Regions from separate parts of the Homo sapiens genome. Here region 1 is linked to region 2. The links come from fine-mapping of genetic effects on gene expression. A gene starts in region 2. The other region holds a variant in brackets. All regions are shown on one strand. Distances are between the middles of the regions. Region 1 holds the start of LOC100507472 (a long non-coding RNA gene). Region 2 holds the start of PCSK6 (proprotein convertase subtilisin/kexin type 6).

Region 1 (4,380 bases), 180 kb after region 2:
TCAGGGCCAGGCAGAGAAGAGTGCATTCACTGTGCGAAAAACTTCCACTTCCACGACTGGAAGTGTGTGCCAGCCTGTGGTGAGGGCTTCTACCCAGAAGAGATGCCGGGCTTGCCCCACAAAGTGTGTCGAAGGTACGGTCCTCCTGGCGGGGAACGGCAGGCAGCTGTGTCCAGCAAAGGAGTGCCTGGAGGGCAGAGTCTGGCAGCATCTTCCCCAGGGGCCGGGGAGGGCATGTTGCATCACCCCACTGTGGACAGGAGCCCATTTACAGAGCTGCTGAGGGGCCTTCGTCCCTTTGTTCACTGGATGCATATTTGTTGGGTCCCTGCTGTGGGCAGACACCGTGCAGCAGCGGGATAAGATGGGAAGCAGAATAGCAAGGTGCTCACACCCCATTGGTGGACTACGCGGGACGTCCCTGCCCATGTCGCGCTCAGCATGCATCCTTTGCACTGTCGATAATCAGAGAAACCATGTTTTGGGTTAAAAAAAAATTTTTTTGGAGACACACTCTCACTCTGTCGCCCAGGCTGGAGTGCACTGGTGTGACCTCAGCTCACTGCAACCTCTGCCTCTGGGATTCAAGCAACTCTCATGCCTCAGCCTCCCGAGTAGCTGGGACTACAGGCGTGCACCACAATGCCCAGCTAATTTTTGTTTTTGTTTTCGTTTTTTTTGAGATGGAGTCTCGCCTGTCGCCCAGGCTGGAGCGCAGTGGGCGATCTCGGCTCATTGCAAGCTCCGCCTCCCAGATTCACACCATTCTCCTGCCTCAACCTGCCGAGTAGCTGGGACTACAGGCACCCGCCACCACTCCCCACTAATTGTTTGTATTTTTAATAGAGACCGGGTTTCACCACGTTGGCCAGGCTGGTCTCGAACTCCTGGCCTCAAGTGATCCACCCACCTCAGCCTCCCAAAGTGCTGGGATTACGGGTGTGAGCCACCACACCTGGCCTAAAATATTTTTTTTAGTTAGATACTTAGAGAAATTAAAAAGATCCTGACAATTTCCTCATTCTAAAGCTGTTCTCTGCACAGTCCACGCACATCTATTTTCACCCTCCATATCCTCCTCTTGTGCTTCCTCCCATGTGTCCCTCCACAGAGTCACCATTCTTATTTGATGGCCCTGGACCCTTCTGTTGTTGGACATGAGCTGTTAAAGGAGGAGCTGTTTGCTCTGGTCTCCTCTTTTCTGGCTGAATATTGCCCTATGTTGGGAGATCATGAACTCAGGACCCAGAACAGGGCAGGGCAACCTGTCTTATTCAGGGTGGGAGCAACATTGAGGAGTTTGAAGGGACCTGTGAGGGTGTGACGATGGGGTGAGCTGTGAGGGGTGACGATGGGGTGGGCTGTGAGGGGTGACGATGGGGTGGGCTGTGAGGGGTGACGATGGGGTGGGCTGTGAGGGTGTGACGATGGGGTGGGCTGTGAGGGGTGACGATGGGGTGGGCTGTGAGGGGTGACGATGGGGTGGGCTGTGAGGGGTGACGATGGGGTGGGCTGTGAGGGGTGACGATGGGGTGGGCTGTGAGGGTGTGACGATGGGGTGGGCTGTGAGGGTGTGACGATGGGGTGGGCTGTGAGGGGTGACGATGGGGTGGGCTGTGAGGGGTGACGATGGGGTGGGCTGTGAGGGGTGACGATGGGGTGGGCTGTGAGGGGTGACCATGGGGTGGGCTGTGAGGGGTGACGATGGGGTGGGCTGTGAGGGGTGACGATGGGGTGGGCTGTGAGGGGTGACGATGGGGTGGGCTGTGAGGGGTGACGATGGGGTGGGCTGTGAGGGGTGACGATGGGGTGGGCTGTGAGGGGTGACGATGGGGTGGGCTGTGAGGGGTGACGATGGGGTGAGCTGTGAGGGAAGTACCAGGCGTTAGCCTGCTTTCACAGTGCTAAAAAGAAATACCTGAGGTTGGGTGATTTATAAAGAAAAGAGGTTGAATTGGCTCACAGTTCTGTAGGCTTCATAGGAAACATGGCGCCAGCATCTGCCCAGCGTCTTCACTCCTGATGG[C/A]AGGTGAAGCAAGGGCAGCACATCACATGGCAATAGCAGGAGCAAGAGAGGGAAGGAGGCCGGGCACGGTGGCTCACGCCTGTAATCCCAGCACTTTGGGAGGCCAAGGTGGGCGGATCACCTGAGGCCAGGAGTTCAAGACCAGCCTGGCCAACATGGCAAAACCCCTTCTCTACTAAAAAAAAAAAAAAAAAAAAATGCAAAAATTAGTTGGACGTGGTAGTGTGTGCCTGTAATCCCAGTCTTACAGGAGGCTGAGGCAGGAGAATCGCTTGAACCAAGGAGGCGGAGGTTGCAGTGAGCTATGATCGCACCATGCACTCCAGCATGAGCGACAGAGCAAGACTCCATCTCAAAAGAAAAAAAAAAGTCAGGAGTTGCCACACACCTTTAAACAAGCAGCTCTCACATGAACTCACTCATCACCAAGGGGATGGTGTGAGGCCATTTATGAGGGATCCACCCCATGATCCAAACACCTCCCACCAGGCCCCACCTCCAACACTGGGGATCACATCTCATCATGACACTTGGAGGGGACAAATGTTCAAACCATATCGGGGGGCTTCCGTCTGAAAAAGACTGAAAATGAGGGAGCCCTCAAAGGCTTGTGTCAGAGCAGGGGAGGGGTGCCCATGGCTGGCTGCCAGCTGGGTACCGATTCACCACACAGTGGGGTCTGCCTCCCAGGCTGTGTGTAAGAACCACTGTGGGTTGTAACCTATTCCCCTAGAAACAAAGCCCTACAGTGAGCCCATGAGGGACCACCAAGCCCTTGCACTTGTCTGACCCACAGCAGAGGGACCTGGTGGCGGTTACGTATCTCGGCAAGCATCAGCCCCTTCTACTGCGTTGCTGTAATGGAGGAAACTTGCCACCCGCTTGCAAGGTGCAGCCTTGCTGAGTCCTGCACGGGGCCCTGGGCACAGTTGTCTGAAGTTAAACCCTTCATGGTAACCAGTCAGCTGGTTCTCAGATAATTAAATATAGCAATCCAGGGAGAACTTGGAATTAAACAGTGATAATCACTTTCATTTGTCAAATGCCCTGGATTTCAGGGCATGCTGATCATGCCCACAGCTGTGCAACTGGACCCCTGCAGGCAGCCCCACCGCAAACCTCTCTTTGCCCCTCAGGAGGCAGCAGGCGGGCAGCCCCACCGCAAACCTCTCTTTGGGCAGTGGAGGACAGGAGTTTCCTGGGTACTTGTTCCCAGGTGAGGGGCAGCTTTCGGCCCTGCAGAGGCTGACAGTGCTGGGGCTGACACACCGGGTCTTGGAGAAGCACCCCCCAGGAAGAGCGTCAGTGTGGACGCCTCCCAAAGGAAGCAAGGCCTTGGTCCGATTGGTTCTGCGGGGTCTCTCCCCACTTGGACAGCCTGAGCTGAGAACCACAGGCATCCTCCAGGCCCCAGAATGCTGGTGGACGCCGTGGCCGTCCGCTGCTGCTGTGCCAGGCAGCTCCGAGGGAGCATGTGGCCAGACGGGCTGCGTTGGAACATGCAGGTCAGGACGCAGGCCTGCTGGGTTGGCAACTGCAGGTGGAAGCCGAGGCCCGACGCTGAGAACAATGCCTGATAAGTTCCCTAAGAGAGGGGCCGAGGCCCGACGCTGAGAACAATGCACGATAAGTTCCCTAAGAGAGGGGCCGGACACCCTCAAGACCTAGTGAGAGGACCCAGCAAGAGCCAGCCTGGACAACTTGGAAGAAAAACAGGCCTCTGTGGAGTGCTTGCCAGCGGGGGAGGCAAACTCCTCATGCCCTGGCCCTGCCTCCACTTGCCCCCAGGCTCAGCGGGGGCAGAGACTCCCAGGGGCACAGCTTGAAGGGGCACGCCTTCTGCCAATGCGCATGCTGCGTCCAGGCTGGAGCATGAAAGCGTCAGTCTTCTGCATCCCACTCCTGAACAGGCAGGAGGCTGATGGGAGTGGCCTCTGCAAGGGAGCAGGGACAGAGGGCTGCATCCGGCATCCCTGTCCTTCCAGAATGTGGCAGGGCAAAGCGGCCATGGTGTTTGGGGGAAAAGTAGGTACCATAGATGGTTGCAGAACCAGAAGCATCTTAAAAGCCACCCTGCCCAAAGCTGGTGCTGCCCACGAGGACCCGCTGCTGGGCACGGTAATCCTGACGGAAAGCAGGAGCTACACAGGGTCTCCCAGGGAGAGCCGTCTGCACTGGCCTAACGGGGACGGGAGCATCACCCATCTCCCTGAGCAGCATGGTGATGGATTATTTCCCCAGACCTCCAGAGGAGAGCCCAGCCTGGCCACCACCTTGCCCTGAACCTCGTGAGACCCTAGGTGGAGAGCCCAGCTGCACCTGCCTGGACTTCTGCCTGCATAGCGGGGAGCCGC
Region 2 (4,380 bases):
TTGAAGAACGGCACCAGATCCAGGATGAATCTGAGGGACATCCGGCCAGCAGGGGAAGGGGAAGAGAGGTAACACATGCTGCCCAGACATACTGCTGCTAGGTGACAATGCAATGCCTCCAACCCCGTCCCCTTGACTCAGGCCAATGTCCCTCTTCTGCAAGCCAGTTGGCTAGGCAGCCAGGGCCATGTCAGGCAGAGGCAGACTGAGAGTTCTGGGTACTGTTTCTGTCCAACAAGTATGGCCGGTTCTCCTCTAGGGCTGCCAGTTTGCATGAGGGCCTCATGTCTCTCCACTGGCAGGGGCTGGTGAGCATCCAGTCCATCTGTAGGAGGGACACACGGTGGCTGTCTTCTGCAGTGTGGGCAGGCCTGGAGTGACGGCCCAAGCAGCTGACCCCACTTGCCAGGGGAACGCAGGGAGGTGAAGTTACATCTAGTGTAGCAAAGCGAAGGCCATGTGGGACGTTGATCTCCAGGTTCCAAGATGGGCCCTTGGCAGGAGCCCTTGTGAACATGGATGTGGCCTGTTGGGATGGGGCCTCCCACCACGCCTCCTGTTCTCCCACCTCCATTAGGGGTGACTCACACCTGAAGAAATGATGAATCACGTGGGTTACAAAACCAAAGGGCTCCTGAGAGCGAGGCTGGAAAGGACCTCGGAAACCATCTATGCAGATCCTGTCCTCAGCCCATCCCCTCTCGCCCCAGCCTCTCACCTCCAGCTGCCAAGCCACAGACTCCAAGTGAATCCTGCACGCTCAACAAGAGACCGCTCCTGGAACTGACCATCAGAGAAGCAGCTTCCTTCCCACCTCAAGGCCTTCTCGACCTTTTTGTTTTACTTCCTATATTAAGCAGGTTGATGGCTTGCTTTCTGGAAGTGGGCCAGTAGGACCAATGGGTCCTGGGAGGGATGACAGAAGAGATCCAGCAGCGATCCTTACCCTTCATAATTCCTTGATTATGGTGTGAACATTTCCATCCATCTCCAGGGTGCTTCAAATCATTATCCACTGGATACCAGGCTGCTCCAGGAAGCAGGGGTGAGGATGATTCAGCTGACTTTCTACTGCTGGTCCCAGCTCAGTGGGTGCTTTTAAGAGTGTACATCGTCTAGTGAACACCTACCACACGGCAGGCCCTGGGCTCATAAAAACGAACGTTTACGGACAGCTTATTGTACAGCAAAAGCTGACCTCATCCTCAAATCAGCCCGACGGGGTAGATGCCACTGTTCCCCGCATTTTGCAGGTGGGGCGCCTGCCCTCAGCCACCACAGTCATTTGCCCAAGATCGCAGCGAGGCTAAGCGGACGGCCTGGGGGTTCACCTGCACGGCCTGGGGGTTCACCTGCGCGGCCTGGGGGTTCACCTGCACGGCCTGGGGGTTCACCTGCGCGGCCTGGGGGTTCACCTGCGCGGCCTGGGGGTTCACCTGCACGGCCTGCCTCCCAGCATGGGCCGCGGCCTCCGCCATGGGCTCCGTGCGGTGGTTTCTCGGGTACACGCTCGTGAGCCCGGCTGATGCGCCACATGCCTTTGCCCCGCTCAATGTGTCCCTTCAGCCAGGCTTGGTCCCGGGCGACCCACTGTCTTCCCCGCAGCTTCTTCTCCCTGGGACCCCGCACACGGGCGAGCCCTCCGTCTAGGGAGGCGGGCGAGGCCGCCAGGCGTCTGAGGCCCCCGCCAGGTGAGTGCGGCCTTCGGGTGTCCGGCCGGTCTAGGGAACCGGGGACTCACCTGAGACGCCGGGGCCTCCCCGCTCCCAGCAGAACTCGCGGGCCGAGGACGCCTCTGGGGCGGCACCGCGTCCCGAGAGCCCCAGAAGTCGGCGGGGAAGTTCCCCCGGTGGGGGGCGTTTCGGGCCTCCCGGACGGCTCTCGGCCCCGGAGCCCGGTCGCAGGAGCGCGGGCCCGGGGGCGGGAACGCGCCGCGGCCGCCTCCTCCTCCCCGGCTCCCGCCCGCGGCGGTGTTGGCGGCGGCGGTGGCGGCGGCGGCGGCGCTTCCCCGGCGCGGAGCGGCTTTAAAAGGCGGCACTCCACCCCCCGGCGCACTCGCAGCTCGGGCGCCGCGCGAGCCTGTCGCCGCTATGCCTCCGCGCGCGCCGCCTGCGCCCGGGCCCCGGCCGCCGCCCCGGGCCGCCGCCGCCACCGACACCGCCGCGGGCGCGGGGGGCGCGGGGGGCGCGGGGGGCGCCGGCGGGCCCGGGTTCCGGCCGCTCGCGCCGCGTCCCTGGCGCTGGCTGCTGCTGCTGGCGCTGCCTGCCGCCTGCTCCGCGCCCCCGCCGCGCCCCGTCTACACCAACCACTGGGCGGTGCAAGTGCTGGGCGGCCCGGCCGAGGCGGACCGCGTGGCGGCGGCGCACGGGTACCTCAACTTGGGCCAGGTGAGTGCGGCCGGCCCCGCGCGCCCAAAACTTTCCCGGCGGCCTCCGGCGCGCGCGAGGGGGGCGCCTCCGCAGTCCTGTCCGCCCGGCCCCGGCCCCGCGCGCGCGTGGGAAGGCTCCGGGACCGCTTGGGGACGGCGGGCGGCCGGGGCGCCCTGCGGGGGGGGGTGTCGCCCGGGGGGGCGCGCGCGGGACACTCGGCGGGGTGGGGGGGACTGGGGTCCCGCGTGGGCGCCCACGCAGGTCCGGCGCGCCGACCGCAAGTCCCCCGGCAGTGCCGCCCAACCCCGCGCTCGGAAGTGTGGCCTCAGAAGCCGGGGCGGCGCGGACACCTGCCGGGCTCCGGGGGAGTCTGGGCTGCCTCAGGCGTCGCGCGCCGTCCGCCGCTGGGTCCTGGGCGCCCACCCGGCTCTCCCCCGCGGGGGAGCGGCCCCTCTGCCCTCGACGGGCGGCGCGAGCTCCGGACCCGGTGCGCGCGCCAAGGCGGCCGCGGCCGCTGCTTGGGTGACATGAGCGTGGCCCGGCGTCTCGGGGACTCGCGCTCCCTCGGTGTCCGCGGCTCCCGGGGGTAGATGGCCGGGAGCCTGCACCCTGGAGCCCGGCCGCCGTCGGAGAGGCCTTGGGACAGCGCAGGGCCGGGGGTCCTGGGTTTAAAACCTCTCCAGGAGCGGAGGGAGGGCGCTTTGTGTGGGGGCTTCTGCCGCGGTTCTGATGGCCGAGCGGTGTGACCTTTGGCAAGTCGCTCCCCTGACAAGCTCCTTTGCAGTCAGTGGCAATGTCTACACCGCTGGGTTGTCGGAAAGATCTAATGCTGCGTTGCCACAGAGCCTGGACCGGGGCCTGACCCTCACCGGCCCCCACGGGGCCCTCCCAGCCCCGCAGCCCTCGGCTGTCCCCTCTTCTGTCAGTGAGCAAGCAGGCCACGCCCTGGGCACAAAGGCGGCATTACCCTCAAAGGACCTCCCGGCGGGTCCCTTTTTCCTCTCTCAACCAGCTACCGGGCTGAGGGGCGGTGAGTTGGGGTTGATCCATGTTTATGGCTCCTGGAGAGGCCGTTATTTTGAGGTCACACCAGGGGACCTCTCAGTGCAGTTAACAAATCTACAAACTACACACTCAGAGGGTTAAGTGAAGTGACAGGGAAGCACCGACTCATAACTCTAAACCTTAGTGCCAGGCAGTGTTAAATGTAGTTTCATCGTTATCCGTGGCAGAAGCCAGCAAGGTGTGGTGGCGTCCCTGATTGATAGAAATGACATTAGTTCTGCATCCCAAGCCCCACGTTGATGTACTATTAGGTGTGTGGCTGGAGGGGTGGATTCCACCATTCGAATGAAGGAATCTTCACAAGGCAGGTTCGAGTTTACTGAAAGAATGCTAGCACATCTTTGGAGACCTTTTAAATATATGCATATATATATATAAAATGTTACATATATACACATATACACACATACATATACGCACATGTATATCCATATAGATATTTAGTTTTTTTAACCACTCAAGGCCCTCCAAACATCCTGTGATTTCAGATTTTGCCGTCGGGTAGCACTGACTTCGTTTGTCTCTGTAGTTCTTGACTCTCCCTGGCTGATTGTCCAGGCTGAAGAAGGTGTTCCTCATGTTTGCGTAGTGCCCCTGGCTCCTGCCACACTTCGCTGCTGTGCCCAGGTGGCCCAGCAATTTGTCTTCAGCTAAAAGTGACTCTTAAACTACGCGATAAATTACAAAGTGCCTGGGTTTTGGGATTCTAAAATTAAATGAGCAGAATGGAGCTGAAATTGAGCTGTGAGCTCACACTGCAAGAGAGAGGCAGAGAGGCACAGGTAACTCTCCCCGGAAATTTCTATCTGTGGGAATAAAAATGCCTAACCCTTGGCCATGCCGCCCCTTTGAGACAACCTCTGTCAGGCTCACTGAGTTCTTAGTGCAGTCTGCTCTCCTGGTTTTGCGGATGGGAGAGAAGATTCGCCCCGATGCACACTCCGTA

What was found.
Region 1: its variant is fine-mapped to the expression of PCSK6 in whole blood (TOPMed, PIP above 0.99).

Annotation. Positions count from the first base shown.
Region 1 is chr15:101,309,130-101,313,509 of GRCh38, reverse strand. PCSK6 (proprotein convertase subtilisin/kexin type 6) reads left to right here. Exons shown (of 22, transcript NM_002570.5): 20 at 5-134. LOC100507472 (a long non-coding RNA gene) reads left to right here and starts at 4,206. Exons shown (of 1, transcript NR_045387.1): 1 at 4,206-4,380. The variant C/A (reference allele first, on the strand shown) is at 2,027.
Region 2 is chr15:101,487,381-101,491,760 of GRCh38, reverse strand. It overlaps PCSK6 (proprotein convertase subtilisin/kexin type 6), which reads left to right and starts at 2,054. Exons shown (of 22, transcript NM_002570.5): 1 at 2,054-2,387. The coding sequence starts at 2,091. LOC124903566 reads left to right here and starts at 2,608. Exons shown (of 2, transcript XM_047433427.1): 1 at 2,608-4,380. It overlaps LOC107987228 (a long non-coding RNA gene), which reads right to left and starts at 1,994. Exons shown (of 2, transcript XR_001751730.2): 1 at 1,437-1,994; 2 at 1-1,373.